Regions from separate parts of the Homo sapiens genome. Here region 1 is reported to be linked to region 2. Evidence: microRNA targets listed by miRTarBase, many of them from high-throughput screens and not tested one by one. Region 2 holds a microRNA gene; the other region holds the end of a gene's coding sequence.

The links. Region 2 holds the annotated microRNA hsa-miR-663a (AGGCGGGGCGCCGCGGGACCGC, at 10,063-10,084, opposite strand). A microRNA usually pairs through its seed, bases 2 to 8, with sites in the 3' UTR of a target mRNA and lowers its output. Matches are read on the target gene's strand: a 7mer-m8 pairs with bases 2 to 8, a 7mer-A1 pairs with bases 2 to 7 and ends in A, and an 8mer does both.
Region 1: miRTarBase lists SIPA1 as a target of hsa-miR-663a. The part of its 3' UTR that is shown has no 7-base or 8-base seed match.

Annotation. Positions count from the first base shown.
Region 1 is chr11:65,646,021-65,659,878 of GRCh38, reverse strand. It overlaps SIPA1 (signal-induced proliferation-associated 1), which reads right to left. Exons shown (of 16, transcript NM_006747.4): 7 at 13,501-13,658; 8 at 12,814-13,423; 9 at 12,221-12,495; 10 at 10,399-10,617; 11 at 10,207-10,318; 12 at 10,014-10,122; 13 at 9,828-9,929; 14 at 9,687-9,741; 15 at 9,400-9,478; 16 at 8,967-9,310. The coding sequence ends at 9,164. RELA (RELA proto-oncogene, NF-kB subunit) reads left to right here. Exons shown (of 11, transcript NM_021975.4): 6 at 82-213; 7 at 1,057-1,161; 8 at 1,380-1,592; 9 at 3,944-4,024; 10 at 4,117-4,191; 11 at 4,879-6,278. The coding sequence ends at 5,501. It overlaps MIR4489 (microRNA 4489), which reads right to left and starts at 10,687; the gene lies at 10,626-10,687. RefSeq lists enhancers at 5,298-5,798, 6,539-6,588, 6,599-7,078 and a silencer at 7,139-7,378.
Region 2 is chr20:26,198,181-26,214,936 of GRCh38, forward strand. It overlaps MIR663A (microRNA 663a), which reads right to left and starts at 10,098; the gene lies at 10,006-10,098. MIR663AHG (MIR663A host gene) reads right to left here and starts at 11,053. Exons shown (of 5, transcript NR_040095.1): 1 at 10,943-11,053; 2 at 1,269-1,343. RefSeq lists enhancers at 9,571-10,072, 10,956-11,516.

The sequences.
Region 1 (13,858 bases), not on the chromosome of region 2:
CAGCGCAGAGCTCCCTGCCCCCACTGATAGCACCTATATCCCCACTTCCCCTGCTCTCCTGATCGCCTGTTTTCTTGGCAGTTCCTATAGAAGAGCAGCGTGGGGACTACGACCTGAATGCTGTGCGGCTCTGCTTCCAGGTGACAGTGCGGGACCCATCAGGCAGGCCCCTCCGCCTGCCGCCTGTCCTTTCTCATCCCATCTTTGACAATCGTGAGTAGCGAGGGAGACGCAGGAAGGGGAGAGGGTGGGCCTGAATAGGAGGAAGGGGGTTGGGGTGAGTGTGGCCTGCAAGAGGCGCTCTGGCTTCATTCAATCATCTTGCGTATTTGTCTACTCTTCTCTGCCCAGCTCTTTGTTGGCTGGGGAGAGAGGGCAAAGAAGACCCAGAGCTGTCCTTGAGGTGTAGCTCTGGCCTGGCAGGAAGTCTAGCAGAGAGTCTGATGGGAGATGGGCATTTTCAGTATTGTGTGATGAGAAGGTGGTGTGCCCACAACTGCGATAATGACTCTAGGAAATGAACTCCCAGGAACAAGATAGTGTTCGAGAATGATGATTCAGTGATGGAAGCCCACAGATGAATTGGGCTGACTGATCAGCTGCAGTCTTTAGTTAAGTAACCAGCAGGATGAATGGAAATAAAACGAATCTGGAGCCCCAAGGATGGGAAACCAGGATAAACTGGGGGTCAGGAGGGAAGGGCTCATTGCCAAGGTGGGTATGGACTGGCCTTAAAGATTGCTTTGGTCAGGTGGAGAAAGAGTGTGATCAGATTGGCACCCACTGGACTATAAGCTCCGGGAGAGCAGAGAGGTTTGGGTTTTGTGTGTGGTCGTATTCTTGCTTAGATCAGTGTTGAGTGCACAGTAGGCAAATACTTGTTGAATCGGTTGGGGTGAGGAGCTAATAAGAAGGTCTGACTTTGGCTACAAAGGTGTAGGTGGCAAGCTCTGGGCAACCTTGACTCTGGGCTGGGCAGGGAAGTTGCATCTCCTGCAGGCCACCCTGGGGACCTCTCGTGGCTCAGGTCATCCTCCCTTGTTTTCACTGCCTCAGGTGCCCCCAACACTGCCGAGCTCAAGATCTGCCGAGTGAACCGAAACTCTGGCAGCTGCCTCGGTGGGGATGAGATCTTCCTACTGTGTGACAAGGTGCAGAAAGGTATACATCAGGAGGCAGGGGTGGGCTCTTGGGAGCAAGGGGTGAAGCTGAGCAGAGAAGTGGAGTGTCAGGTAACTGGCTTTGGATACTTCCTCCTGTGCCTCGGGGGCCTCAGGTGGGCCGAAGGGTGATGTATCAGAAGACAAGCATCAGAAGTTGAGGGGGAGACCATGGAGGGTTAGACACACTGACCCACACTGCCACCGCATCTCCTGCAGAGGACATTGAGGTGTATTTCACGGGACCAGGCTGGGAGGCCCGAGGCTCCTTTTCGCAAGCTGATGTGCACCGACAAGTGGCCATTGTGTTCCGGACCCCTCCCTACGCAGACCCCAGCCTGCAGGCTCCTGTGCGTGTCTCCATGCAGCTGCGGCGGCCTTCCGACCGGGAGCTCAGTGAGCCCATGGAATTCCAGTACCTGCCAGATACAGGTACACAGCTGGGGTGGCAGCATCAGGGCAGCTGGGCTCTGTGCCGTGAGAGAGAGGCCAAGACTGCATGTCTGGGGCTGTGGTTGAGGGCCAGAAGCTGGAGTCAGAGCTTGGGATCCAAGAAACTGGAATCCATTTCTTGCCTCATTTAATAATAATGATACCTCAGACATTGAGCTAGTACTACACATCTGCCCCTATTCCAGGCACTTCACTGGATTACCTGATTTTAATCTCATGACCCTTTTGAAGTAGGAGATAGTGTCCAACTTGCCTGGGTTCACGTGGCTAGTAAGTAGCAGAGTCTAGCAGAGTCAGCGTTGGAACCCAGGCCATCTGGCTTCAGGATCCTTTTGCCACACTGGTTGTCTTGTCACTACCATACAGCCCAGCCACATTTTGGTCGAGGTTTGAGTGTCCACTTGGTACCAGGGCCTGTGCCAGGTATTGTGAATACAAAAAATGAGTAAGACATGCTCCCTGCCCTTCAGAGTCTCAGTCACTTGAGGAAGACAAATGTGCAAAACAGATCCTTAAGTCACGGAATGACATGTGAAATGGAGGTGTGCGCAGAGAAGCACGGGGGCACAGTGGCCTCCGGGGAGCTGGAGACAGCTGCATGGAGAAGGTGGCATTGAAGCTGGAGAAAGACACAGAAGTGTGTTCTCCAGGCAGGTGGCCCAGCACCTGGAAGGGAAGGGGTGTTGGCAACTGCACGGCCTATTCAGGGCCACCTTCGTGGTTTGAGCTGATGTTGGGCAGTGAGCAGGCTCAGAGATTGGAGGGCCTGGTTAAGCTGAAGGCCTCTAAGCAGAGAGGTGACAGGAGCAGATTTGGAAGTTGACTCAGGAGGCCACGTGTAGAAGATCAGAGACAGACAGACTCAAAGCAGGGAGGCCATTCTGGAAATGTTGCTGTAGTCCAGGAAGAGAAGATGCGGCACAAACCTTACAGAAGGAATAGCAGAGCAAGATCACATCTCCACCACTGTCCTCAGTTACCCTTCAGCCCTGCAGCCGTTTTGCGTCTTACAGACCAAGCTCAGTCTCACCTCAGGACCTGTGTCTAGCTGTTGCCTCTGCTTGGAATGCCCAAGGTTTTAATGCAAGTGGCTCATGCCAGTCCTTCCCTGACCTCTAAATTAGCCCTTCCCTCTACATTTAGACTGTCCTGACCTCACTTCCAGTATTGTTACATCACCATATCGTCCCTGGACCACCGTCACTTGAGATTTTCTGGTTTGGTTTTGTTTGTTTGTTTGAGACAGAGTCTCACTCTTGTCGCCCAGGCTGGAGTGCAGTGGTGCAATCTCGGCTCACTGCAACCTCCACCTCCCGGGTTCAAGTGATTCTCCCTGCCTCAGCCTCCCGAGTAGCTGGGACTACAGGCGCCCGCCACCACATCCGGCTAATTTTTTGTATTTTTAGTAGAGACGGGGTTTTCACCATGTTGGCCAGGGTGGTCTCGATCTCTTGACCTCGTGATCCACCCGCCTCGACCTCCCAAAGTGCTGGGATTACAGGCGTGAGCCACCACGCCTGGCCGAGATTTTCTGGTTTGTATATATGATTGTGTCCCTCTCACTTTTTCACTAGGATGCCAACTTTTTGGGAGCAGACACCTTGTGTGCATACTCACGGCCACATCCCCAGTGTCTAGAAGGGAGGCTGGCACATAGTAGGTGCTTGATAAATATATGTCAAGTTACTGGCGGGGAGTGAGAGAAAAGAAGATAATCATTCCAAGGTTTCTAGCTTTGGTGACAGGGCAGATGGCGGATGGTCAGGGAATGCAGGAGAAAGAACCTAGTTTTTGAGGGATGATGAGGTTGTCTTTGAATTGATGGAATTGAAGTGCTTTGGAGCTACTGAAATACCACTGTAATTAGAAAGACAGTTCTGAAAGCTCTGACTAAAATATGAAACCATTAGAGATAAGAATAAGAGTCTCTGCTGAAGTCTTAAGGCAGTTGTGCCTCAGCTGCCCCAGAGTGCCAAGAAATTCTCGCCAGGCCTGGGTGGAGGCTGACAATGAGCCAGGATGTGAGCAGTGCAGGAAGGTGTGAGCTGGAGGCTGGGGCCCCCCAGGTCTCCTCTTTGCCCAGAGCATGGCCCCTGTACTCGGCCTCACCATGTGGTCTTAGAGGGGCAGATTCAGCCAACAGAGGCCTCCAAAAGCTGTGGGATTCTCAGAACTGCTGAGTGTCACACATCCCTTCTCATTGGCAGAGAAGGTTGGGAGAATGGGTCTTGGGAAAGCCTGGCTCCTCCCCTTCCTCCTGAGGGACCTTTGAGAGCGTCGGGGACCCACCTGAGGAGAGCAAGTCCCACTTCTCCCCCTTACTTTCCCAGACGATCGTCACCGGATTGAGGAGAAACGTAAAAGGACATATGAGACCTTCAAGAGCATCATGAAGAAGAGTCCTTTCAGCGGTGAGATGGGGACTGGGAAAGCCAGAGAGGAAGGCAGCGGGCAGGGAGGGGACACCCTGGGGCTGAGAACTGACCTAGCCCTTGCCCTACAGGACCCACCGACCCCCGGCCTCCACCTCGACGCATTGCTGTGCCTTCCCGCAGCTCAGCTTCTGTCCCCAAGCCAGGTAAGGATTTCCTTTTGTCCCACTGGAACGACAGGTTCAGCTCTGTTCAGCTGAGGAGCAGTGGAGATGAAGACTCCTGGGCCCCATTACAGACCTACTGAATCAGAGGCTTTGAAAGGATGGCGCAGGAACCAGCGACTTCCTGGGATGCTAATGCACACTGAAGCCTGGGAACCACCGTGCCACTTAAATTCTATATTGGGTATCTTGGGAATCAGAAGTTAAAAATGCAGAATCTCTGCTCTCATCTCTCACTTGAATTGGGGGAACAAAAATCACCTCTAAATTAGCAAGATGTGTGTGCCTGTGCGAGGCTCAAAAACTGACAAGCTCTGCACTTCAGGCCGCTGCTCACTTGGTGCTCCATGGGCTCATTGCCTCTCAGGACTTAGTTTTTCAGCTGTAAACTGAGGAGTCCAGCTTATCTCTCCAAGTGTCCCTTCCTCTAAAAGGCTGGAAGAGTTTCGTGGGCTTGAGTAGTCAGGGAGGACTCCAAGGTGGAGGTGTGGCTAGAACTGGACCCTACAGGCTGGGTCAGATGGGGTAAGAGGAAGGAGATAGGGTGTTGGCAGTGACTCCCTAGAGAGGGATTGAGCCTGAGCACCATGAAGAGGGGCTGGGGTACAGAGGACGGGGTGGATCTCTAGGGCTTTCTCTGACCCCTGCCTCTCTGTCTCTCTCCTCCAGCACCCCAGCCCTATCCCTTTACGTCATCCCTGAGCACCATCAACTATGATGAGTTTCCCACCATGGTGTTTCCTTCTGGGCAGATCAGCCAGGCCTCGGCCTTGGCCCCGGCCCCTCCCCAAGTCCTGCCCCAGGCTCCAGCCCCTGCCCCTGCTCCAGCCATGGTATCAGCTCTGGCCCAGGCCCCAGCCCCTGTCCCAGTCCTAGCCCCAGGCCCTCCTCAGGCTGTGGCCCCACCTGCCCCCAAGCCCACCCAGGCTGGGGAAGGAACGCTGTCAGAGGCCCTGCTGCAGCTGCAGTTTGATGATGAAGACCTGGGGGCCTTGCTTGGCAACAGCACAGACCCAGCTGTGTTCACAGACCTGGCATCCGTCGACAACTCCGAGTTTCAGCAGCTGCTGAACCAGGGCATACCTGTGGCCCCCCACACAACTGAGCCCATGCTGATGGAGTACCCTGAGGCTATAACTCGCCTAGTGACAGGGGCCCAGAGGCCCCCCGACCCAGCTCCTGCTCCACTGGGGGCCCCGGGGCTCCCCAATGGCCTCCTTTCAGGAGATGAAGACTTCTCCTCCATTGCGGACATGGACTTCTCAGCCCTGCTGAGTCAGATCAGCTCCTAAGGGGGTGACGCCTGCCCTCCCCAGAGCACTGGGTTGCAGGGGATTGAAGCCCTCCAAAAGCACTTACGGATTCTGGTGGGGTGTGTTCCAACTGCCCCCAACTTTGTGGATGTCTTCCTTGGAGGGGGGAGCCATATTTTATTCTTTTATTGTCAGTATCTGTATCTCTCTCTCTTTTTGGAGGTGCTTAAGCAGAAGCATTAACTTCTCTGGAAAGGGGGGAGCTGGGGAAACTCAAACTTTTCCCCTGTCCTGATGGTCAGCTCCCTTCTCTGTAGGGAACTCTGGGGTCCCCCATCCCCATCCTCCAGCTTCTGGTACTCTCCTAGAGACAGAAGCAGGCTGGAGGTAAGGCCTTTGAGCCCACAAAGCCTTATCAAGTGTCTTCCATCATGGATTCATTACAGCTTAATCAAAATAACGCCCCAGATACCAGCCCCTGTATGGCACTGGCATTGTCCCTGTGCCTAACACCAGCGTTTGAGGGGCTGGCCTTCCTGCCCTACAGAGGTCTCTGCCGGCTCTTTCCTTGCTCAACCATGGCTGAAGGAAACCAGTGCAACAGCACTGGCTCTCTCCAGGATCCAGAAGGGGTTTGGTCTGGGACTTCCTTGCTCTCCCTCTTCTCAAGTGCCTTAATAGTAGGGTAAGTTGTTAAGAGTGGGGGAGAGCAGGCTGGCAGCTCTCCAGTCAGGAGGCATAGTTTTTACTGAACAATCAAAGCACTTGGACTCTTGCTCTTTCTACTCTGAACTAATAAATCTGTTGCCAAGCTGGCTAGAGATCCGCTTTTTTTCAGCAAACACTGAGCACACATTTTGCTAGTCACATCAGGCCAGACATTGGTGGTAGAGAGCTGGGTGAATGCGTGCACTGTCCTCTGAGAGCTTGCAGTCTGAGAATGCCCTTGGAAACCCCGAGTTACCGTCCAGTGGATGAAAACGGGCAGCTAAGGCAAGAGTCCTAGCACACTGAGAGCCTAGTAGAGCCCGCTGGCTGTGGGGATGGAGCAGTTTCAGGAGTCTTCCAAGAGGCCCCATTAGCTCCAGGTCTTAGATCAGCTGAGAGTGGATGTCAAAGAGGGACTAGCCAGCGTCAGAGGTAAGAGAAACGATGTTCGAAAGATGTGATGGGGCCAAATTCCTTGGGTGGCCCAGGGAGTGTGTGCTTCTCTTGGGGAATGTGTGGTGCCAGGTAAAGATCTACCCGGCCCACCGATGCTTTGATACTCTGTTCTGGGAGGAACGGTGAAATCTTCAATCCACAGCCTCAGGAAGCCAAAACAAAGGCCCAGCCGCAGCCCACAAGGGCTACAGCTGGACGTACTTCCGCTTTGCCCCAGCGCAAGCGCAGCAGCAAAAAGCGCTGGCCGGCGTGGGCCCCCTTCTCGACTGCGCAGGCGCACAAGGAGCCCGCAGCAACCGGAGGCCGGGTCCAGCGTCTGGGGAAAATCCCCGCCGAGGCCGATGGCGTCTTCGTTTGGGCTTCGCACCGTCGCGGGAGGACAATAGCAGGGGAAAAGGAGTTATCGTCAGCGGGACGCGTCCCAAAATTCAGCGAGTCTCCTAGGAACAGAAAAGGCCCTGGGTGCAGGCTCCGACGGGCGGCGCCGGCGAGACGGCAGGCCAATTCCGTCGAGGAAGTGGCGTTTTCCACGGGGCTCCGGCTCCGGGGGGGCGGCCAGGGGCGGGGCTTGGAGCGAGGGCGGGCCTCGGCGGAACTCCCACGCGAGGGGCGGAGCCCGGGCTCGCGGTGGCCAGGTCAGGACCCGGGCGAAGCTGCCGGGGAGCGCCTGGGAGGCGGGGTCGGGGAGGAAGCGGGCGGGGTGAGAAGGCTCCTAACGCTGAGGAAGCCGACGGCTGAGCTGCGCAGGGACCCCGACCGGAGGTCCGCGACCCGAGGCCCAGAGGGAAACCAGGGAGCCAAGGCCCTGCAGCCCAGGCTGCGCCTCCCTCCTCTTGGCTTTCTCGGTCCCGCGACCTCCCGTGACCCACGAAGACCTCTCCTGGTTCTTCTCTCATTCGTGAATGACCCCATCATGCTCATGGCTCAGCAGCTCCAAGTCCTCGTATCCAACCCAGATCTCTCTCCCCTGCGCACCAGCCCCTGGACATCTCCACTCTGACGTCCTCGGGCCTCTCAAACTCATCCTGTTCCAAATGACCTCAGCCATCCCCAGCCTGCCTCTCCTTTTCCCTGTCAGCCCTGGCCCTGCCACCTTCCAAGGGCTCCAGCCGGAAACCTGGCCACTACCGTAGATGCCGCCTCTTCCCTTAGTAACTTGCGTCCAGTCCTTCCACGAGGTCCTGGAAAATCTGCCCACTTCTCCCCACTGTCACTGCTATCACTGAGTTTAAGTCACCACTAGACCTCCCACTGGACTGCGGCTACAGCCGCCTCCCTGCAGCCAAAGAGCTCTGACATCCAGATCTCACCCCATCAATCTCCCTTCAAACATCAACCACAAGACCAGATCCGAGTTTTCTGCAGACACACCCTCAGTGACCACAGCCTTCCACACTAGTCCACAACCAGGAAAAAGTGGCAGTCTTGGGAACTGCTAACCCAGGATCCCTAGTGCACCTTCACAACCCTTTCTGATCTGGCTTCTTTGACGCTGGGTTCCTGGGTGTGCCTTGGCTCTAGTCCAGCAGGCCTCAGCCAGACTGGTCCTACCAGGATACCTCTGACGTCTCTGCCTGGTGAACTCCTACCCAGCCTTCAAAACTCAGCCCTCATATTACCTCCTCCATGAAGCCTTCCTGATCCTCAGATGCTCTGTTTCTCCGAGCCTAGCTCATCCTGCCAGCACCTAAGTTAACAGACCCAGGGCCTAGGTCTCACCATGGAGCTTCAGCCAGCCTAGGGAAGGGACTGGAATAGGCATGAGATGCTGGGCAAGTCTGCCCTATCTGGGCCTCAGGTCCAGAAACCAAAGGATTTAGACAAAGTCCCAAGTTTGGACTTGATGATGCCACTTCGGGGAAAGGCCTGGCCTCGCGAGGAACAGAGAGGACCATAGGCTGGTGAGGAGGGAAGTGGGTCAAGGGCCCGTTTCCTCCAGGACATAGAAACAGCCCCAGTCAACTGAGGCGGAGATGCCACCGCCTCTGGAATTGGGCCCTGCAAGAAGTGGCCAGGTGGGTAGAGAGAGGACAAGGCCTGGGGGCTCAGTGGCTTCAGAGAGAAGAGTGAGGCCTGCACTGAGGCACAGGGCCTTGTGATGCACGGCCAGGGTAGCTGTGGGGTGTGGCCACCTGCTTCCCTGCAGAACCAAATAAACGTTATGGGAGAGAAGCCAAGCAGTGGCCTGGCCTCAGGGACCCCTCAGTGAGTGCCAGCCCATCTCTGAGCCAGTGTTCCCAGGGCCTGTCCTGACTGGTCCGAGGAGTTTGGCTGGGGCCTCTGGAGGCAAAACCCCTTGCCCTGCCCTGTCTTGGACACATGTTCAGACACAGACATCAGTGGCTTTTTTACTCCCTGAAGTCCTCTTTTCTCCACAGAATATTTACAAACAGGGAAGGGGTGGAGGCCACTTCCGCCACCAAATAAGGGGCTAGGGAGGGGGGCAGTGCTAAGACACGCCTCTGCGCAGGGAGAGTTCCTGAGGAGGGCCCAGTGTGACCACAGTGCCCTCAGGGGCCCAGGTGGTTCCAGACGGCTCAGGCCAGGTCGGCGGTGGGTGAGCCCAGCTGCTTGGAGGCCAGGAGGAGGCGTGTGGCTGCACTCTCAGACTCCGCCTGCAGCCGCCGGTTGTTGTGTCTCAGGCTCCGCACCTCCTCCTCCAGGGCCGCCCTGTCCGCCTTCTCCTGGGGTGCCGGGGAGACAGGAGTCAGAGCCGCCAGCCCCTTTCCTGGGGCAGCCCTGTGACTCCCCCCAAGCTCAGCCCACCCCTCACCTTCTGCAGGTCCTCCTGCAGCTTCCTGAGCATGGACTCCAAGTGAGAGACCTTCTCTGAGAGGTTCCCAGGCTCTGGCCTGAAGACATGGGGGTCAAGACTCAGCAGGACCAAGGCAGGGGGCAGTGCACCAGCTGACTCCCAGCCCCAGCTAATGAGAGGGGCCCCGCTGGTCTTCTAGGCATATGTGGCAGCAGAGCCCAGGACAGAGCTCCACCCCAGCAGACAGGCACGAAGGGGGGGTCATGTGGGCAGGTAAAGCGGCTGTGGGGAGTTGGGGAGCTTACTCAGCATCAGATTTTGGAGTTCCCTTAGGGTCTCCACTCTCTGGGATGGGCTGTCCTGTGGGGACAAAGGGATCAGGTGGGCAGGTCAGAAAGGGGGCAAGAGCACTGCCCAGGCTTACCGCAGCACCCTGGTGGCCTCACCCTCTCGGGACAGCGACTCCAGAATGGTGTTGCAAGTAGAGGCAATCTCCGAGATGGCCTGCCACTCGTCCTCCAGGGTCCCACTGCCCGCCTCCGACATGACTGTGGGCACAAGGAGCAGGCTGAGCTAGGGAAGCCCAGGAGCACCCCCCAACCCCTCCCCTGCTCTCCTGGGTCCAGACTCACTCCTGCTGATGGAGTTCCGCAGAGACAAGGTACGTGGCAGAAAGGAGGCCCTCAGCTCCGGCGCCGGGTTGCCCTTGTCCTCAGAGCCACTGGGACTGCCTGGCCTGTCCTGTGCCACAGAAGTGGATACAGATTCAGTGATGCCCACTGTCACCACTGTGCTGTTGGGCTCCAGAGCCTGGTTTCTGCTCACCTGGGTCAGGGGTGTCTCACTGTCAGCACTGGGTACTGATGGCTTGGCTGTGGTGGCCAGGAGGAGGTCCGGGGTGGTGTTGGGCAGGACTGGGGCCTCATCCGACAGAGAGCTGGGGAGAGCAGGGGTGGCTCAGAAAGGGAAGCCGCTTTCCCAGAGGCCTGGAGGAGAGGGAAGGCCAAGAGTGTGCACCTGCGTGGTGACAGCGAGTTCTGGCTGTGCAGGAACTCAGTCCTCTCCTCGGCCAGATCCCCAGGCCCTGGAGGACTGCCACCATCTTGCAGGCACAGGTGCAGCAGCTGCTTTGTGGTGGGCAGCAGGGTCACCCCCTGGACCTCATCCTGCACAGGATCTGGGGCCCCCCGCCGGCTAGGCTCCTGCAGCGACAGCGTGTACAGCTCCGAAAAACTCCTGTGGGGTGGGACAGGGTCAGGCAGGACTTCTCCAGTCCCCAGCGTCCTGCATCACTAGCCCCACCCCCAGCCCGCCAGGCTCACTTCCAGGAGCAGGAGAGCTCCCCGGCATCCTGACAACAGTGAAAAATGTCTGCCTGGTTACTGGCCATTTTTCCAGACCATGGTTCAAATTCCAGTGCTGCCCCTGTATATCCCAAGCAAATCACTCTGAACATCAATTTCTCCATCTGTGAAATGGGGATAATAGTACGAACCTCATAGTGTGCTGTGAGGATTTAAATAACACGTGTAAATTGCTTAAATCCCAAAACTACTGTCTGTAGCCAAATCCAGCCTGTGCCTTTTCCTTTTCTTTTCTAAAGCAGATGTGCCAGTTTCTGTACTGCGAGCTAAGCATGGATTTTACTTTTTTTTTTTTTTGAGATGGAGTTTTGCTCTTGTTGCCCAGGCTGGAGTGCAATGGCGCGATCACAGCTCATGGCAACCTCCTCCACCTCCTGGGTTCAAGTGATTTTCCTGCCTCAGCCTCCCAAGTAGCTGGGATTACAGATGCCTGCCATCACACCTGGCTAATTTTTGTATTTTTACTAGAGACGGGTTTCAGCATGTTGGCCAGGCTGGTCTCGAACTCCTGACCTCAGGTGAGCTACCCGCCTCAGCCTCCCAAAGTGCTGGGATTACAAGCATGAGCCACCGCGCCCGGTCCGGATTTTACATTTTTAACTAGTGGAAAAATCAAAAGAATATTTCATGATAAGTTAAAATCATGTAAAATCCAAATTTCAGTGTCTATAAAGTTTTAGCGAGACACAGGCACATTTATTTATTCATTTACCTACGACAGAGTAGCTGCGGCAGAGACCAGATGGTCCAGAAAGCCTAAAATATTTATTATTTGGCCATTTACAGAAAATGTTTGCCTACCCCTGGCTTAGCACAGGAAGTTATCAATAGTGTGTAGTGTGTGTGTTGGGTGGGCGGGTGCCAATACTTAAAAAAAAAGATAGTGGGGGCTGCTATTTGATCTTTTAAGCAGTGGGAGCAACGCGCTTAACTGGTCCCATTCTACATATGAAGATAGAGGTTCAGGGCGCGGTGACTCACGCCTGTAATCCCAGAACTTTGGGAGGGCGAGGCAGGTGGATCACCTGAGGTCAGGAGTTCGAGACCAGCCTGGCCAACTTGGTGAAACCCCATCTCTACTAAAAATAGAAAAAATTAACCGGCCGTGGTGGTGCATGCCTGTAATCCCAGCTACAAGGGAGGCTGAGGCAGGAGAACTGCTTGAACCTGGGAGGCGGATGTTGCAGTAAGCCGAAATCACGCCATTGCACTCCAGCCCGGGCAACAAGAGGGATACTTCGTCTCAAAAAAAAAAAAAAGAGAGAGGAGAGAGAGAGGAAGGAAGGACAGAGAAAGAGAGAGAGACAGAGACAGGAAGAGACAGGCTCAGACGGGCTAAGAGACGGGAGATTCTTTCCAGAAGGAAAGGTATCCACACTGGGTTCCTGAAACTGCTGATGGCGACCCGGGAGGCGCAGACTGCGCGGTGGCCAACTGCCGGCCCTCCCACCTCCCCGCGTCCCCGGCACCCTGACCTGCGGGGCCGGCCGCTCTCGTCGGGGGGCAGGACGGTGACGCAGACCTTGGGCGCCGAGCGCAGGAGCTGGGCAGCGGCCTCGGGCCGGAGGCTGGGCAGAGTCTGGCCGCACACGCGCAGGAGGCGCGCCCCGGGCCGCAGCCCCGCCGTCTCGGCGAATGTGAAGCGCTCCACGTGCGTGACGAATCCCTCGGCGTCCACCTCGAAGCCCAGGCGGCCTTGACCGTCGCGGGGCAGCGCCAGCTCGCGGGTCTCGCAGCCACGGCTCACCAGCTGCGGACGGGGCGGGACGAGTGGGCGGGGCTGCCGGGAGGTGGGGCCGCCCCAGCGCCCGCCCCCTGGACTGCGTCCCAGGCCACACGGAACTTTCCACAGTCCCCGAGGGCCGCGTGTGCCACCGCCCGAGGGATGAAGACCAGAAGTCGCTTACCCGAGGGCACCAGTTCCGGCCTTGCCAAGCCCCGGGGCTGGCTCTGCCCTCCTCGACTTTCCCTTCCGCAGGAGTAGGGGACAAAGGCGGCGGGAGGGAGGGGTCCAAAGCAGGCTCCGCCCCGCCGCGCGCAGGGGCCCCAGTTTACCACTCCAGCTCACCTGCAGGCGCGCCACCACCTCGCCCACGGCTTGGCCGGGGGACCCGTCGAAGCGCAGCGTGATCGCCTCCCCGCGGCCGTGGTACAGGTCCAGCTGCTGCTCGGAGAAGGTCCAGGCCAGCACGTCGCGACAGGCGCAATTGAACACTACGCGGCCGTCGCGCGGCGCCACCAGCACCAGAGCCTCGGCCGAGATGCCCAGCAGGCAGGGCACCTCGATGCCTTCGGGGCCGCTCGCCTGAGCCCCGGCGGCGACCCGCGCCCCGGGCGCCGCGCGCACTCCCCACACCAGTGAGCCCGCTGCCTGCAGCTCGGCGCCTGGGCCCCGAGGGGCCGCCCGGCGCCTCCCACCCAGGGAGGGCAGGCCGAAGCGTGAAGCCGAGTCCAGCGACGTAGTGGTCACCTCGTTGGTGGCCAGGTCTTGCAGGTACTGCTGGCGGGTGCGCGTGGCCATGGCGTGGAACTGGCGCGCGTGGCCGGCCGCCTGCTCACCATTCAGCGCTTTGGCCAGCAGGAAGGCCCGGAAGTCGGCGTTGGCTGCGAAGGGGCCTCCGCCAGCAGGCAGAGCTGGCCCGAAGGCAGGGGTGTCCTGGGTGCGGCTCACGGCCACCCTGCGGGGAGGGAGGCGTTAGTGAGGGGCGGCAGGACTCCATGCCCACGGGAGACCTGGGACCACTCCGGTGCCCACCTGTAGGTGGTGTGTGGCGTGCAGGGTGTGTGTGCCCGCACCACTAGGAACACGTGCTGGAAGTGCGAGCGGATGGTGGTGGGGCAGAAGGGCTTGCTGCCAGGCTCCTGGAACACGATGGTCACAATGTCGTTGCCAATGTGGCGCTTCCGGAGGAGCTAGGGGTTGGATAGTAGGGGCTCGTGATGAGGTCTTCTGTGCCCCAAACCCCTCCTCATTCAGGCAGGAGAAAGCCAAGGCACCAATGGCTCCCCCACTGCCCCTGGTGAAGACCTAGGGTGTTTCTGTCTTTGGGAAGGGGCCACCAGAGGGGCGGGCTGTTGGGGCCAACAGAGCTCCGGCCAAAGCTCAAACGTCA
Region 2 (16,756 bases):
TTTAGTTTTACAACTTTTAATTTACCAAAATTGTGGTTGCTACTGTGACTGTTGTATAGGGAAACCATGCACAAATTAATTCATGACACATTCATGTTCTTTTTGCATACGTCTCTTTTAAAAAAAAAGTTATTTAGGTAAAGTGCTAAAGAGAAGTTATTTCACCTTGCTGACATTGTGTCTTACAGTTTTACCCAACCAATTTTAGTCATTACTTCTTTATCTTAACAGGATTACTTAATTGCCTAGTCATGGAATGAATGATTTGGCTACTTCTATAGATGCATTAATAAAGCCTTATTTGTATAATAGTCAAGTTAAGATGAACATGCTTGTGACCTCTCGCAGAAATAATGAAGATTCTGCAATTTAAAGAGCAATAAAATGTAAAGATGTAATTACCAACTCTTCATTATCTTACGGAATTTCAAGATAAAATCACTTTATTTCAATGTCAAAAGACAGAGCATTAAAGTCTTTTTCAAATACCATTTAATTGGATAGATTAAGATACTTTAATATATTAATTTCTTTCCTTGTTACTGTATATTTCACGATAAGAATGCAGGGATATATATTAGACTTCTGGGAAATTGAAACTGGTGTAACTTACCAGTTAATTCTAAAATCTATTAATCATGTGCTTTGCTTATCTTTCTTCCTTGGTAAAATATGAATGTTCAAAGATATTTTCATGTTGTCTAAAGCATCCGCATTTCATATACAAATATATGAAATATATAAAATATTAACAGAATTATACCAAATATATACAAAATAAAAATATACAAAATATTAATTTAGCAGAAAAAAAAACTGTTGCATGAAGATAAGGTACAGGATGGTACTTTATCTTATGGTTTTTTGTGAACCATAGTCAGAAAAATCGGGATCAAAAATAATAAAACAAAATATACCCATTGCCTTAAGGAAATAGGTAAATGAGATAATTATATTTTTAAAGGAACTATATAAAAGCTTTATGCAAAAATCACAACCATATTTCTTGTTCCTGCACATCCCAATCAATTCATTAGATTGTTTTACACATTCTGCAAAAATATTCTAATGCAGGCAGAGAATTTGAAATGTAAAACATTATCATACTGTCTCCTATATTTAGAGCTCAGCTATGTCTCTTATATGTTAAAATGCTACTTCTGTTTGACACACACTCTTACACCTACTGAGGAAAAAAATTGCTTCATATTAACAAAGTGAATTATCTCTTTTGAGTAACATGAGTAACCTGGTCAATAGTTACTTACCGTGTGTTAGTTATGGGCTGAACTGTGCTCCTCTCTCCCAAAATTCATATGGTGAAATTCTAAAGCCTAGTATTTCTGAAAGTAACCATATTGGGATGTTTTAAATAAGAATTCATTTAAAATGAGGCCCTCGGGGTGGGTCCTAATCCAAAAAAATGGTGTCCATATAAAATAAAATTTAGAAAGGGGTAAAAATCAGCTACATGTATGCACAGAAGTACAACTGTGTGAAGATAGAGCTGTGAGAAGGCAACCATCTATAAGCCAAGAAGAGAGGCCTAGAACAGATCCTTCCATCATGGTCCTCAGAGGAGCACTTTGACCTTGGATTTACAGCCTCTAGAACTGTGGGAAAATAAATATCGGTTGTTTAAGCCACCCAGTCTGTGTGTGTGTGCATGTGTTTAAGTGCCACCTTAGAAAACTAATATAATTGACAAAAGACATAATGGACTTTTTAAAGCCAGCACCCAACTACGTTAGCATCATTTTCAGATGTTTGTTTTAGTTTGTTTATTTTATTTTATCAAGTATTATAATGATAATTAAAAAAAAAAAGTTACATGAGGTGGTTCACACTTTTAATCCCAGCACTTTGGGAGGCAAAGGTGGGAGGATCACTTGAGGCTGGAAGTTCAAGACCAGCCAGAGCAACATAATGAAAGCCAATGTCTACAAATTTTTTTCTTTAATAAAAAATAAAGCTGGGTGTTTTTATAATAATGTGTTTTATTATAAAGCACACACCTGTAGTTCTAGCTACTTGGGAGCTGAGTTGGGAGGACTGCTTGAGCCCAGGAGATCAAGACTACAGTGAGCCATAATTGCACCACTGCACTCCACCCTGGGTGACAGAGTGAGACCCTGTCTGTAAAAAATAAATAAATAAATAAAAATAGATAAAAACAATTTCAAAACTTAAGACTAAAGAAACTCAGAAAACTGTCAATTACATTTTGCTCTGATTTTTCTCTTGTATATAGTATAATGAAATGTTACATCAACTTGCCATTTTTAAAAGTAAAAATCAGATGGATTTAGCTGGGCACAATACCAGTTGTATTGAGAATTTCTAATGTCACTCAGATGAAAGACTTGAAGGAAAGGAGATAGATTTAGAAGGAAAAGGAGACAGACTTAGCAGGAGAGATGGTTAATGAGATCAGTCATTCAAATAATCTACCTACTAGTAAAGTTAGACAAACAAACAAACGGCAACAACAACAACAAAACCCTACCCATCATCTTTAGAGAAAAATCATAGTCTCCCACTTGAAATAACACATTCGTCTGGAAGCTTAAATAAAAGAACACATATTTTCACACAGCACAAAAGAATTATTTTTATATTTGGAACACGATTGCTACAGAATTATGAAAAGAAAAAAATACAGACTGTAGAGAACAAAATAAGACAAGCTTCCATCAAGAAGGAAACATAAAATATACTAACTTGAAATAACAGATATACACAATATATGGAGTTCAAGTTTTTAGTGTTGACTCCAGCCGAGATATATCGGAGGCAAAGAAAGATTTGCAAAGGATTCATGAATTATCCAAAGTTAAACATGTTATATCTAACCAAGCCAGACCTAGAACACATTATTGGTCATATTCTTTCCATTGACTATGTCTAATTCCTCTTAAAGTTTTTTCCCTTTACATATAAATCCTACACACATTACCACTTTGGTAAGATAAACAGAACAAAACACTTATTTTTTCTTTCAGCACTTTGGATGTGCTATCCCATTGTGTTCTGACTACCATTGTTTCTGATGAAAAGTCAGGTGTTAATCATAAAGTCATTTCCTTGTATGGATGAGTTATTTTTCTTTTGCTTTCAAGATTAACTCCCTTCACATTTTGTTTAATCCAGAATTATTAGAAACTCTAAATTTGAGACTCAAAGTCACTCATCAGATCACCACAAAATTTCAAAACATACATACTTAGAATGTATATTCTTGTATATATCAATATATAAGAATATCAATATACTACTTTAATGTCTTCTTTTATTAATACAAAATCATTGGAATATTTGGGAAGGGAATATAAGTCAGAGCAAGAGCATCCTAGATTAGTGATTGCTACATATTAATCATTCAATCATTGTTTTTGTGTCAATGAAAGAATAAATTACTTCCAGTATTTTTGCTGACATATTTCTTTCCCTAGTTTCAAGATTCACAGAGAAATATACCTTAAATAATATACTTTGATTCTCTTGAAAACAATTTTCTATCTTTCTCCCCAATCTTTCTCAATATTTTTAATACAATATTTTTTGTTTCTATATCCATCAAAAAGTTTCAGTGTGATGAGATAGCATAAAAATCTATTTAGAGGATCAGTTTGGAAGTCAAGATGTGCAAAATGTTTCTTATCTGCTCTGTTCTCTTTTCATTATCTTCTCCCTGACCCAACCCCAAACATTGTAAAGAATGCTAAACCCTTTATAAAGAATTTTACCAGAATCGATATTAAAATTGAGTGTGCTATTTATTACTTAGAAGTAATTATCAAACTTTAACCTGTAATCTCATTTATTTACAGTGGAGCATAGTAGTTAGAAGAAACGTGACTCAATTAGAGGTCAATTACTCCTTAGCAATGTATCAGAGTTGGGCAAGTTACTCAACCTCTGCTAATAACAATCTCTTAATCTGTAAAAATAAATATATCCATGAAGTATTCCTAAGGTTAAATGAAATAACTTATATTAAAGTAAATCACTTGGTGTAATTTTGAATATACAATATGTTCTAGCTTGAATTACTACTACTAATGAAAAACTGAAGCTCAGATCAACAAAAAAATAGTGCCATTCTCCAACTTTTTCTAGGTAGTTTGCTAGAAATAAGAGAGCAAAATAGATTAGGGCCCAGTTTCTGGATTTAAGGATCAGAAATCATCTGCTGTGTTTATTATGAACCTTTTGTATCCCTTCAGTTCTTCCTGTAAATTTTTACAAAGAACTTACTGAATAAACAGTTAAAACACCTCAAATTAACAAAATCTTCTCTACTATATCTCCATTATTTCAAAAAAGAAAAGAGAATCCTTTCCCCGTTCCTTCTTTTTGTCAGGTTTGTCAAATATCAGATAGTTGTAGATATGCAGCATTATTTTTGAGGGCTCTGTTCTGTTCCATTGGTCTATATCTCTGTTGTGGTACCAGTACCATGCTGTTTTGGTTACTGTAGCCTTGTAGTATAGTTTGAAGTCAGGTAGCATGATGCCTCCAGCTTTGTTCATTTGGCTTAGGATTGACTTGGCAATGTGGGCTCTTTTTTGGTTCCATATGAACTTTAAAGTAGTTTTTTCCAATTCTGTGAAGAGAGTCATTGGTAGCTTGATGGGGATGGCATTGAATCTATAAATTACCTTGGGCAGTATGGCCATTTTCACCATATTGATTCTTCCTACCCATGAGCATGGAATGTTCTTTAATTTGCTTGTATCCTCTTTTATTTCATTGAGCAGTGGTTTGTAGTTCTCCTTGAAGAGGTTCTTCACATCCCTTGTAAGTTGGATTCCTAGGTATTTTATTCTCTTTGAAGCAATTGTGAATGGGAGTTCACTCATGATTTGGCACTCTGTTTGTCTGTTATTGGTATATAAGAGTGCTTGTGATTTTTGCACATTGATTTTGTATCCTGAGACTTTGCTGAAGTTCCTTATCAGCTTAAGGAGATTTAGGGCTGAGATGATGGGGTTTTCTAGATATACAATCATGTCATCTGCAAACAGGGACAATTTGACTTCCTCTTTTCCTAATTGAATGCCCTTTATTCCCTTTTCCTGTCTGATTGCCCTGGCCAGAATTTCCAACACTATGTTGAATAGGAGTGGTGAGAGAGGGCATCCTTGTCTTGTGCCAGTTTTCAAAGGGAATGCTTCCAGTTTTTGTCCATTCAGTATGATATTGGCTATGAGTTTGTCATAGATAGCTCTTATTATTTTGAGATACGTCCCATCAATACCTAATTTATTGAGAGTTTTTAGCATGAAGCATTGTTGAAGTTTGTCAATGGCCTTTTCTGCATCTATTGAGATAATCATGTGGTTTTTGTCATTGGTTCTGTTTATATACTGGATTACGTTTATTGATTTTCGTATGTTGAACCAGCCTTGCATCCCAGGGATGAAGCCCACTTGATCATGGAGGATAAGTTTTTGATGTGTTGCTGGATTCGGTTTGCCAGTATTTTGTTGGGGATTTTTGCATCAATGTTCATCAAGGATATTGGTCTAAAATTCTCTTTTTTTTTGTTGTGTCTCTGCCACGCTTTGGTATCAGGATGATGCTGGCCTCATAAAATGAGTTAGGGAGGATTCCCTCTTTTTCTATTGATTGGAATAGTTTCAGAAGGAATGGTACCAGCTCCTCCTTGTACCTCTGGTAGAATTCGGCTGTGAATCCATCTGGTCCTGGACTTTTTTTGGTTGGTAAGCTATTAATTATTGCCTCAATTTCAGAGCCTGTTATTGGTCTATTCAGAGATTCAACTTCTTCCTGGTTTAGTCTTGGGAGAGTGTATGTGTCGAGGAATTTATCCATTTCTTCTAGATTTTCTAGTTTATTTGCTGACAAAAAGAAGAAATGGGGAAAGGATTCCCTATTTAATAAATGGTGCTGGGAAAACTGGCTAGCCATATGTAGAAAGCTGAAACTGGATCCCTTCCTTACACCTTATACAAAAATTAATTCAAGATGGATTAAAGACTTACATGTTAGACCTAAAACCATAAAAACCCTAGAAGAAAACCTAGGCAATACCATTCAGGACATAGGCATGGGCAAGGACTTCATGTCTAAAACACCAAAAGCAATGGCAACAAAAGCCAAAATTGGCAAATGGGATCTAATTAAACTAAAGAGCTTCTGCACAGCAAAAGAAACTACCATCAGAGTGAACAGGCAACCTACAGAATGGGAGAAAATTTTTGCAACCTACTCATCTGACAAAGGGCTAATATCCAGAATCTACAATGAACTCAAACAAATTTACAAGAAAAAAAAACCCATCAAAAAGTGGGTGAAGGATATGAACAGACACTTCTCAAAAGAAGACATTTATGCAACCAAAAAGCACGTGAAAAAATGCTCATCATCACTGGCCATCAGAGAAATGCAAATCAAAACCACAATGAGATACCATCTCACACCAGTTAGAATGGCAATCATTAAAAAGTCAGGAAACAACAGGTGCTGGAGAGGATGTGGAGAAATAGGAACACTTTTACACTGTTGGTGGGACTGTAAACTACTTCAACCATTGTGGAAGTCAGTGTGGCGATTCCTCAGGGATCTAGAACTGGAAATACCATTTAACCCAGCCATCCCATTACTGGGTATATACCCAAAGGATTATAAATCATGCTGCTATAAAGACACATGCACACATATGTTTATTGTGGCACTATTCACAATAGCAAAGATTTGGAACCAACCCAAATGTCCACCAATGATAGACTGGATTAAGAAAATGTGGCACATATACACCATGGAATACTATGCAGCCATACAAAATGATGAATTCATGTCCTTTGTAGGGACATGGATGAAGCTGGAAACCATCATTCTCAGCAAGCTATCGCAAGCACAAAAAAACCAAGCACTGCATGTTCTCACTCATAGGTGGGAATTGAACAATGAGAACACATGGACACAGGAACGGGAACATCACACACTGGGGACTATTGTGGGGTGGGTGGAGGGGGGAGGGATAGCATTAGGAGATATACCTAATGCTAAATGATGAGTTAATGGGTGCAGCACACCAACATGGCACATGTATACATTTGTAACAAACGTGCACGTTGTGTACATGTACCCTAAAACTTAAAGTACAATAAAAAAAAGAAACCCCCCCAATAAAAAACAAGAAAATAATAATAATTTTGTCAATGATAGTTAACTATATGTTAGTCACTAACACTATGGCAGTTACCTTCAAATTCATATTTCTAATATTTCCAATATCTTCATATTTATATATCTAATTCATATTTGAACCCAGCTCTAATTTAGGAAGTTCTCTTTTTTCTTTTAGAAATTAAGGCATAAAGTGTCACGTGACTTGCACAAGATTGCACCACTAGTAAACTTAAAAATATAGTTTACTTGCCTACTGTCTCAATGTTTTAGTGATTTATTGATCATGCACAATTATTTTTGAAAACAGAAATTCATTTAGCATACCACATTTCAAGATCCATTGGTAGAAGCCACTTTATTAGCTTAATCAACAAAAATGTCTAGAAAATTTGAGCTTTTATTAACTGATAACATATTAGAAGTTACATATATATATATATACATATATATATATATATATATACATATATATATATATAATGAAACAACCCCTATAATCTTTATAAAATTATTTGGGAGAGGAGGGAGCAGATGAAACAAAAATAAGCTTCCAGCACATCCAGCCTTAAACGTTAAGTTAACTTGCTGTCTGTCCTGCTTCCTCATAATTGTTCACTAGGTATGGCCCCACAATCATTTATATCCTGTCACAAGATTATAGTTAAACTTAACTACTCATAGATAACAACTTGAGCATTGTAAAATGTTAAGTTTTCTCTTTGAGGTATTCTTTCAGATCCTACATACCAGTGAAACTACTGACATCAGCTGCTCCGAAGGGCTCCAGGAGAAGCCGACTCACTAAAGGGCAAAGTTTCTACATCCTGGTGATTTAATCCCCCTTAACCAAACCAGTCAGTGACCCCAATTTTCCAGCCCCTGGTCCTCTACAATCCCTTCACCCCAGCCAAGTACTCTCTGGAAAGACAGATTCGAGGGTGCTCGCATCTCCTCACTCAGCTGCCCTGCAATCATTAAACTCTTTCTCTACTGCAAACTCTGTTTATCAATTTATCAGACTGTGACTGCACAACAGGCATACAAACATGTGAGTCCTGTATCATTTATAAATATTTAACTTTTATGTATATTTAACTGCTATACCATAATTGACTAGTTTGTATGTTAATATTAGTAGGTAATAATAATATTTATATTTCCTCCATAGGTAGCTTCTGGGGGCATTTCTGCCTGGTAAATTTTATTCTTTAATGACAAATACTAAAGTAAGTAACTTTAAAATATTATTGAGAATTTTTTTTCTATTGATGGGACACTGAATTTGTAGGTGGAAATAAAAACCTAGCTTTTTACTAAACTTAATTTTTTATTTAAACACAACTCAAAATGTAAATATAAAATTAAGAATTTCCAAAATTAAACTTAGTTTTAGGAACTCACATAAGCAAGTGTAATACTGAAGAGCAAAGAAACTGTGCTCTATAAAAAAAAATTACAAGTAATTCTTGAAATCTAAGGGCTAATTTGTGAAGTAAATTTGGAAGCTACTTTATGCTGTAGCTCCATCCTAGAGACCGAGAGAACTGCACTAGGAAAACCTGTTCAACCTTTTTTTAACCAGAAATTCTTTCTTTCTCCAGAAATCCTTTTCAGGTAATGCCTAATGATATCTCATTGAACATGTATTAGAAATTGTAGTTTAATTTTTAATTAAATAATTCAGTGAAAATATATTAATTGTAAAGATAAATTTTAACACATATGGGAATACTAGACTTACGGTGGTCATCAACCCAAAATGCTACAAAATTACATAGAATGGTTAGTTTGGCAAAAAATAAATATCACCACTAGCACCAAAAACCTAGGTTTCAAAAAGAAATAAAAGAAGCATTCCAAAATGTTAAAAATTTTTCATTTATCTACTTTCTAAATGTTCTTTGAAACACTTCTTATGTCATCATAATTTTGAAGTTTAAAAGTAAAGAAATAGTTATTCTAGTTAATATACTACCTTAAAGTTACTCTGGCTCACAAACAGAACAAAGCAAAGCATGACTTGACAGCAGTCGAATTACGGGAAATTGAAGCTAAACGAAATTGGATACCTCACCTCATCTAAACTCCTTACTTTATAAGAAGGAAAAGCATCACAAAATGTTGAGGCCATTTAACTTAAAGTCATCAGGTGAGTTAGAGATAATTTGAGACCACTGCTTTTTTTCTCTTTGTTACTATTCTCTTATGAAGTTTTGCCTGAAAACAGGTCTACTAAAAATATAAGAATTTGTAATGAAGATGAACATATATCATTGCCTTTCTGCTTAGGATTGTTCAATATTTTCCCATTGATAATATATAAAATCCTACCTACTTTGACCTCCTCTCCCACCATTTCTTTGCTCTCTATCTCCTAGAACTTCATTCTTGACTCCAAAGCTGCACCCTCCTGCATCAGTTTCTTTTGTTTGAAATCTTCAGCTCTTCATAAATTTCATCCAGCAAACTCCTATTTATCCTTTAACTCCCTATTATTTTTTCTTACAGTGCCACATTTTCCTTCATTAGCACATATCCAATTTAAAGTTACATAGTTTGAGTTTTTGCTTGACTTTCTGTTTCTGCACTAAAGCATAAGCTCCACAAAAGCAAGTATCATGTCTGATTTAACAGGGTATATTCTATTCTTTTTTTTCCACAAGGCGGTGCCCGGTTCGGTCCCAGACGCGGCCACCAACCGACGTAAAGCCGGTGAGCCGCTCGGGGAGGAGAGAGGATCGGCGGGCGGCGGGCGGGGAAGGGGGCGCAGACAGGCAAGGGCCGGGGACCGCGAGGGCAAGGGCACCTGGGAGCCCGCAGAGGGGCGGCTGAGGGAGAAACCTCAGGCATGGCCGGGCCACCAGGAAAACACGGCCGCGGGATCCCACCGCCACAGACACGAGGGCGGTCCCGCGGCGCCCCGCCTGGGACGCCGGAAGGCCCTCGGCACCCACCAAGACCTGCCTCACGAGCCCCTGGTCCCGCCACCGGGGCCCCGAAGCGACCACAGCCACAAACTCAACGCCAGGGCCACATCGCTCGTGATTCTCGTCCATCCTCCGACCCGGTCCCGCTCCGGGAGACCGGCGCGCCCCCACCGTGGGACGCTTTCCCAGGGCCAGGCGGCCCGACCACGTGCCACGCAAACGCCGTCGTCCGCACCGGTCGCGACTCGGCAAGGGAGCGGGCGGAGAGCTGACTCGCGGCGGAGGGGGGTCACTCGCCGGACGGAACGCTGCGCGCAGCCATCGCTCGCTGTCAGCCGCGTCCCAACCCGCTAGGACGCTGGGCCCTGCCGGCGGGATCCTCCCCTTACTCGGAAAGGGGAGGCGCCGGCCACAGTAGGCGACGAGCCGCGCTCGGCCACCACCGCGGTGGCCGGCGGAACCCTCGCTCTCCCCCCGTCACCCCGTCGAGGGGGAAGCTGAGGAGGGTTCCTCTGCAAGCGAGTCGCTACTGCAGCGCTACCATAACGGAGAGAGAGACAGAGGCGGCAGGCCGGGGGATCCCGTACCCCAAGGCACACCTCTTGGATCGCTAGAGAAGGCTTTCTCACCGAGGATGGGTCACACTCCCCACCCGCCAGCCGCCCCTCGTGGGGCCCGAGGGGCCCGCAGAGGCGCTCAGGGAGGCCTGGGGAAGGGAGGGGGCCTGTGGTACCAGGAAAAACCTGCGTGCGGCAACCTTGAGCGTTCGCGGTCAGGGCGGGGACCGGCAGGTGCGAGCGTGAGCGCAACTCCACAAGCCCCCGCCTCCCACCCCCCCCCCCACCCCGTCCACCCGCCTCTTTTCTTCAGAGGCAAAGCACCTCCGAGTAAACCCACACACGACCGGTCGGAGGCAGAACGGTAGCCCCTCGGCGGCCGGCCGGCGCACGCGTCACCAGCCCAAGCCCACCGCGATCGCTCACAGGGCCCGTGCGCACCCGCCAGAGGGGAGCACCGGACGTGCGCTCGCCGGACCAGGCGGGCGCCCTTCCCCGCGTGGGAGGGGCGCGTCTCGTCTCACTCAACCGCCTCGAACCCCACACCGACGAGCTCCCTCAGGACCCACGCGCGGACACCGAGGCGCCGACCGGAGGAGGGGGCGCTGGGGGTGGGAACGACACACCACCGCTCGGCCTCGGGAACCTGAGGGACAACCCGGAGCGCTCCAGGAGCACCGCAAAGGCCCAGGGGGAGCCAACGCTCGCGCAAACTCCCCGGGAGGGCAGCACGACGGGCCGGCGGGACAGCACCCCCACCGCTGCGGAGGGGGGCCGCCCGCAAGTCGACAACCACAGGAGGCGAGAGCGAGGGGTGCCTGCCGCGTCAGAGGACCCCCCGACCCACCCCGCGAGGCAGAAGGCGGGGGCGGGACAGCGAGGTCAGGCCGGGTTCCGCACCCCATGCCTTCCCAACGCACCACCCGCAGGCGAGGAAGAGGAGAGACAAGGGGCCCCCGCGGGCGGGACGAGAAGAAGGGTCCCATTCGCCACGAATGTCCGCCCCTCGCCCGTCGCGGCTCGGACACGGCCAGGGAGAGCATGACATCACCATATTCTATTCTTACAAGAGTGCTGCCACGTAAGTGTCAATGAATGTTTGTGAAATAAATGAGGGACTAAAGGAGTGATCGAACAAATAAAAATAAGTTATCTGTGTGTATTGTATGTGTGAATAAGATTTTGAGTTTGGCCAAGGCAGTTAATCACATATTAACAACTCTTTAGATACATAAGGTTTATAGCAATGAGGTACAAAATTGGTTCAACACCAAATTCTAAGATGAAACAAGGTTTATGTTCAGAAATATAGTGTTACTTTTTCTAATATCATTTGCCCTCCAACTATCAGCATGACACATGCAAACCATTGATACGTGTTTTTTTTTTTTGTATTGAAGATTCCACATGAAGAAAAATTATTATATTTCCAATAGGAAGTCCTCTTCTAAATGACAACAAATCTGAGGGTGAACACATTTGTTAAAAAGAGAGAGATTAAAAAGTTAAGATGCTGTTTGTACAGTATATAACTGAACAAAGTTGTATCTAGCAATTTGACAAGAAAGGTAAAACAGAATATTAACCTCAGCACACAAGTTTAGCTAATGATCTGGAACGGGGAGTTGTGAGTAGAGAGGAGGACAAAGATGAAAGACAACCATTTATCCCAAGTTTCTTTCCAAAGATGAAAAATAAAAAACCCTCTTAGTAATGTTTTTTAAATTCTAACTACTTTCAAGAACACATCAATAAGATATAGAGAGATAACAATCAAGTTGGACATTAACTTAAAAGTCAGATGACTTTTTAAGCATAAGTAACTTAGAACTGTAAAGTAAAAAACACTAAATGTCAATGACTTTAAAGTGGATACTGAAGTAAAAAAAAAACCTTCTATTAAAAACTAGACTATATGCAGTAACTTATGTAGAAAGCTTAGCATAAATATTTATACAAAATTGCCCTACCATATTTTATTAAAATATTACATTATAAATTAAGAGAAAATAATTTTAAAAATGAGTTATATTTTAGGCAATTTTTCTCAAAATGAGTTTCATAAATTGATATGGTTATTAGCATAGTAATTTCAATAATAGGAACAAAGAAACCAAATGAAAACCTAATGTGTGTATGTGTGTGTGTGTGTGTTTTGTGTGTGTGTGTGTGTGTGTATACAATTACCTGGAATTCCAACTTCAATATGTTTAAAAATACTTCAGTGAAAAACATTAGATTTCTTTTAAGGTAGTTTGTAAGATATTTATTAGGTTTATTTGTAGGCCTTGCACACTAAGTTAAGCAACACTATCATAAAATAAATTATTTAATAATGAAACAGAAACTCAAAGCTTCATATTATAATTAAATAAACTCTAAAGTATCTAATAACTTCAACTGTATGCCCTTAAATAACATCAGGACTACAATGTCTATCAACTTGCCCACAGAAAAAGCAACAATGAAAGAAAGAAAGAGATATCTATTTTGTCATAAAAGATCAACACACTTTGTCCAACTGTTGGTCCAACTGCTATAAAGTGGGCCAATGCTAATGGCAAATAAAGGAGCTGCCATTCAACATGCATTCTAGTAGTGAATATTAACTGACTACTACGTGAAGGCAGTGTTCATTGAACAAATAAAAGAACCCTTGCCTGCATGACGCTTATATTTTGGTCGCTTTACATTTTACTGGAGGAAACGTGAAGAATAGAATACCAGCAATATTAGCAACAACATTATCCCACTAGAAGGGCTCCAGTGATTGATATTTCCAGACTCATCTCAGTGACCCTATATGATCTTTATATTCCAAGGAACATGGCAATGGATTTTAACATTTCCAAATTAAAAGGTAATGGTAAAGTAATGATAATCAACATAAAAAATGACTCCCTGGAAACGAAAGCAACTCATTTCAAATGGCTTTGGAATGCCATTAGGACAGCACCTTTTTATTTGTAATGCATAAGTCTCACAATCCAGAGAGCAGGTCTTGTGAATTTTGATGAGAGGTAAGGCATTACAGAAAGACACAAAAGTCACGCTCCAGATCCCAGCAATATAGCTAGTAGGACGGACACAGAGTACATAGTTGTACTACTGATCACAGTGACTTAGAGATTGGAACCTATAGTTCTGTGAGATTAGGCATCATTTCAAGATAAAATTTACATTTTTAATAAATGCAGACTTTGGCTCAGCTAAACAAGGTACCTTGGGCTATATTCTTTCCTGTAGATAGATAAATTTGACGTAATTCACCCTTGTGCAGTCTAAACATACCATGTGCCAACAGTGATGTAAGTCACTGAATATGTGAGATAAAGTATGATGAATTCTATTGACAAATACAGGCAATGGCTTCCATTTAATTGAGAAGAAACCACATACCTAGCACAAGTCATTTTCTGTGCATTAACTTTTCATAATACAACTATATGAAGTTATAGCCTATTTTATATATAAGCATTTCCAAAGGTTAAGAAAGGGCACAGTGAGAGTGAGAAGCACAGTCTGGGTCGGTAGGACAATCTAGTTGTCTATCTGTGCTTTAAACTCCTATAAACATATCTCCCATACCACAGCATCTAACTCAGAGTCACATTCGAATTGCCAGCAAATGGAAGCCTCATAAACCCAAAAGGTGAACGGCAGTGAAGTGTATAGAGCACACTTTGAGTGCACAGAGTATCTTTGCAGACAGTATCTTTTAAGACTTTCACAATCACATCATGAGATTATTCCCATACCAAAAAGTAGGAAATGAAAGCCTGGAAACAAGTTATATCGACATTAAACTGCTCTCAAACCCAAGTGTACAAATGATTTTTCTTGCAAAGAAATTTATATCCTACACAAAGTTCTATTTCAAAATGAATTCTGGAATTCAATTAAACACTCATCTTGAAAACAAGAGTTTAAGTGGAAATTCCTCACTGGTATTCAAGCAAATAAATTAAATAATGATATTAAACCTACATCTAATCTCTTATCATACATATTGAAAGTTTGCTATATAGCTACCACTAAGTTATACATTTCCAGTGACACAAACCATGAAATGAATTTCTTTCTATTGGTACTAGCAAAAAACAAACAAACTACATAGACGGCAAAAAGGTCAATCTACTAATTTATCTTCTAATAACTTTCCACCCAGGCGCATTCATCCCTCTTATTAGACGGTTGTTCTATGCTTCTTTAATTTTTTGACATTCTAATTGCCTCACCTGAACCAAAAAAAGAATGTGGATCTAGGATCAATACCTTTTGAAAAGTCATTTATTTCATTATATTAATTTTTCATATATCTGCATTATTGCATAGAATACCCGATTGGTCTTATGCTAAGTTTTTCATGTAACATTACCTCTGCAAGATGTTAATAAGTATCCTTCCAAAAATGTTTGAAAAATCTTGGGTAAAACATATTAAGTAAGTTCCTGTTTTATAGTTTTCCAAGAGTTTTACTATCCTTGGCCAATGATGAAATTCAAAGCAGAGATATAGTACACAACTTTTGTAAAATTTACCTATTTTTCTTGTAAGACTGTGGCTTTGTTTCATTTTGTTTTGTTTTGAACTTCTTTTCTGTGATGTGACATAAGACTGTGTTTTGAGTTAGGGGTGGGGACATGCATTAACAGAGGTTTAGGAACTGCTTTGTTAAAGCAAGTTTGAGGGGGAAATGGGGAGACTAATACAAGATTTTCATTGAAGCAGTGGGAGTTGAAGGGGTAGGTGGTTTTTGGAGAAAGAAGAGACCCATTCACCGCACAGGCTTCTTTATATTTCTGCTCTGTGTGATACATAGTGAAGATAGAGACATTCACTTCTTCTATTTCCCACCCCTGGCCGGGGGTAACACAAAGGGACCTGATGAAGACACAGCCTTATACCTGTATCAAGTGTCCTTGAGAGTGGTAGGACTGGAGAGGCCTGAGAAATAAAAACATACATGCATTAAAAGGAACAAATAAAGAGAAGAAGAAAACTCAGACATGGTAAATTAACTTTGTACCTTTCCTTACAACCTAGCATATCAGAGGGTACATGATTTCCTTTTGACCTGCTTCCTTTATGCTGACTGCATGAACAGGGAAGGGGGTTGGGGTACACGTGGGTGATAATTGTATTTATTATATACCTGGTATTAATACATCTATAGAGACAATTGGAATGACCATACTGGGGAAACAGCAAGGGAAGAACTGAAAAAGCTAAAATAAATACTTGGTTCTATAAAAAATACTACAAAAAGATTTCTCATGTCTGACAAATTACATTTTAGTCTAATAGCAATAAGTAGACCGAAGCTAAGGTGATTTGATAAATATCATAAGGTATTTTATTGGGAAATTGATATCTATATGTATTGCTTGTAAAGCTCAGTAATCTGTTCTTGAATTGAGAAATTACGGAGACAACATCAAAAGCTGTCATTTTTGTTTCTATGTTGTTGTTGTTATTGTTTGTGAGGTGAGAGCTTCTAAACTTTATGACTGTTTGAAAGGGACCTATATAGGCCTTGCCTGAATATTAAGTCATGTGAAATGATAAACAGCTTTCTGATTTATTGGGTTAAAGAAAAAATTGAGAAATTGAGCATCATTAAAATTAAAGACTTTTGTTATTCAAACTGTGCTTAGAATGAAAAGAAAAGCCACAGGTTGGGAGAAAATCTTTTCAAAACACATACCAGATAAATTAGTGGTATTTAAAGTATACAAAGAACTCGAAAATAAGAAAGAAAACAACTCATTTAAAAAATAGGCCAAAGGTCTAAATACAGCTGTCAAATACAGATATTGAAAAGTTACTAGTCATATATCATTAGGGAACTGCAAGTCACGACAACAGTGAGATATTATTACATGACTATTAAAATGGCCAATATCCAAAAGTCTGATAATATGAAATGCTGGCAAATGTGAGGAGAAACAGGAACTTTTATTCATTGCTGGTGAGAATGCAGAATGGTACAGCTACTTTGGGAGTCAGTTTGGCAGTTTCTTACAAAACTTAAACATACTATTACCACACAACCCAGCAATTACATTCCCTGGTATTTACTTAAAGGATTTGAAAACTTACATGCACACAAAA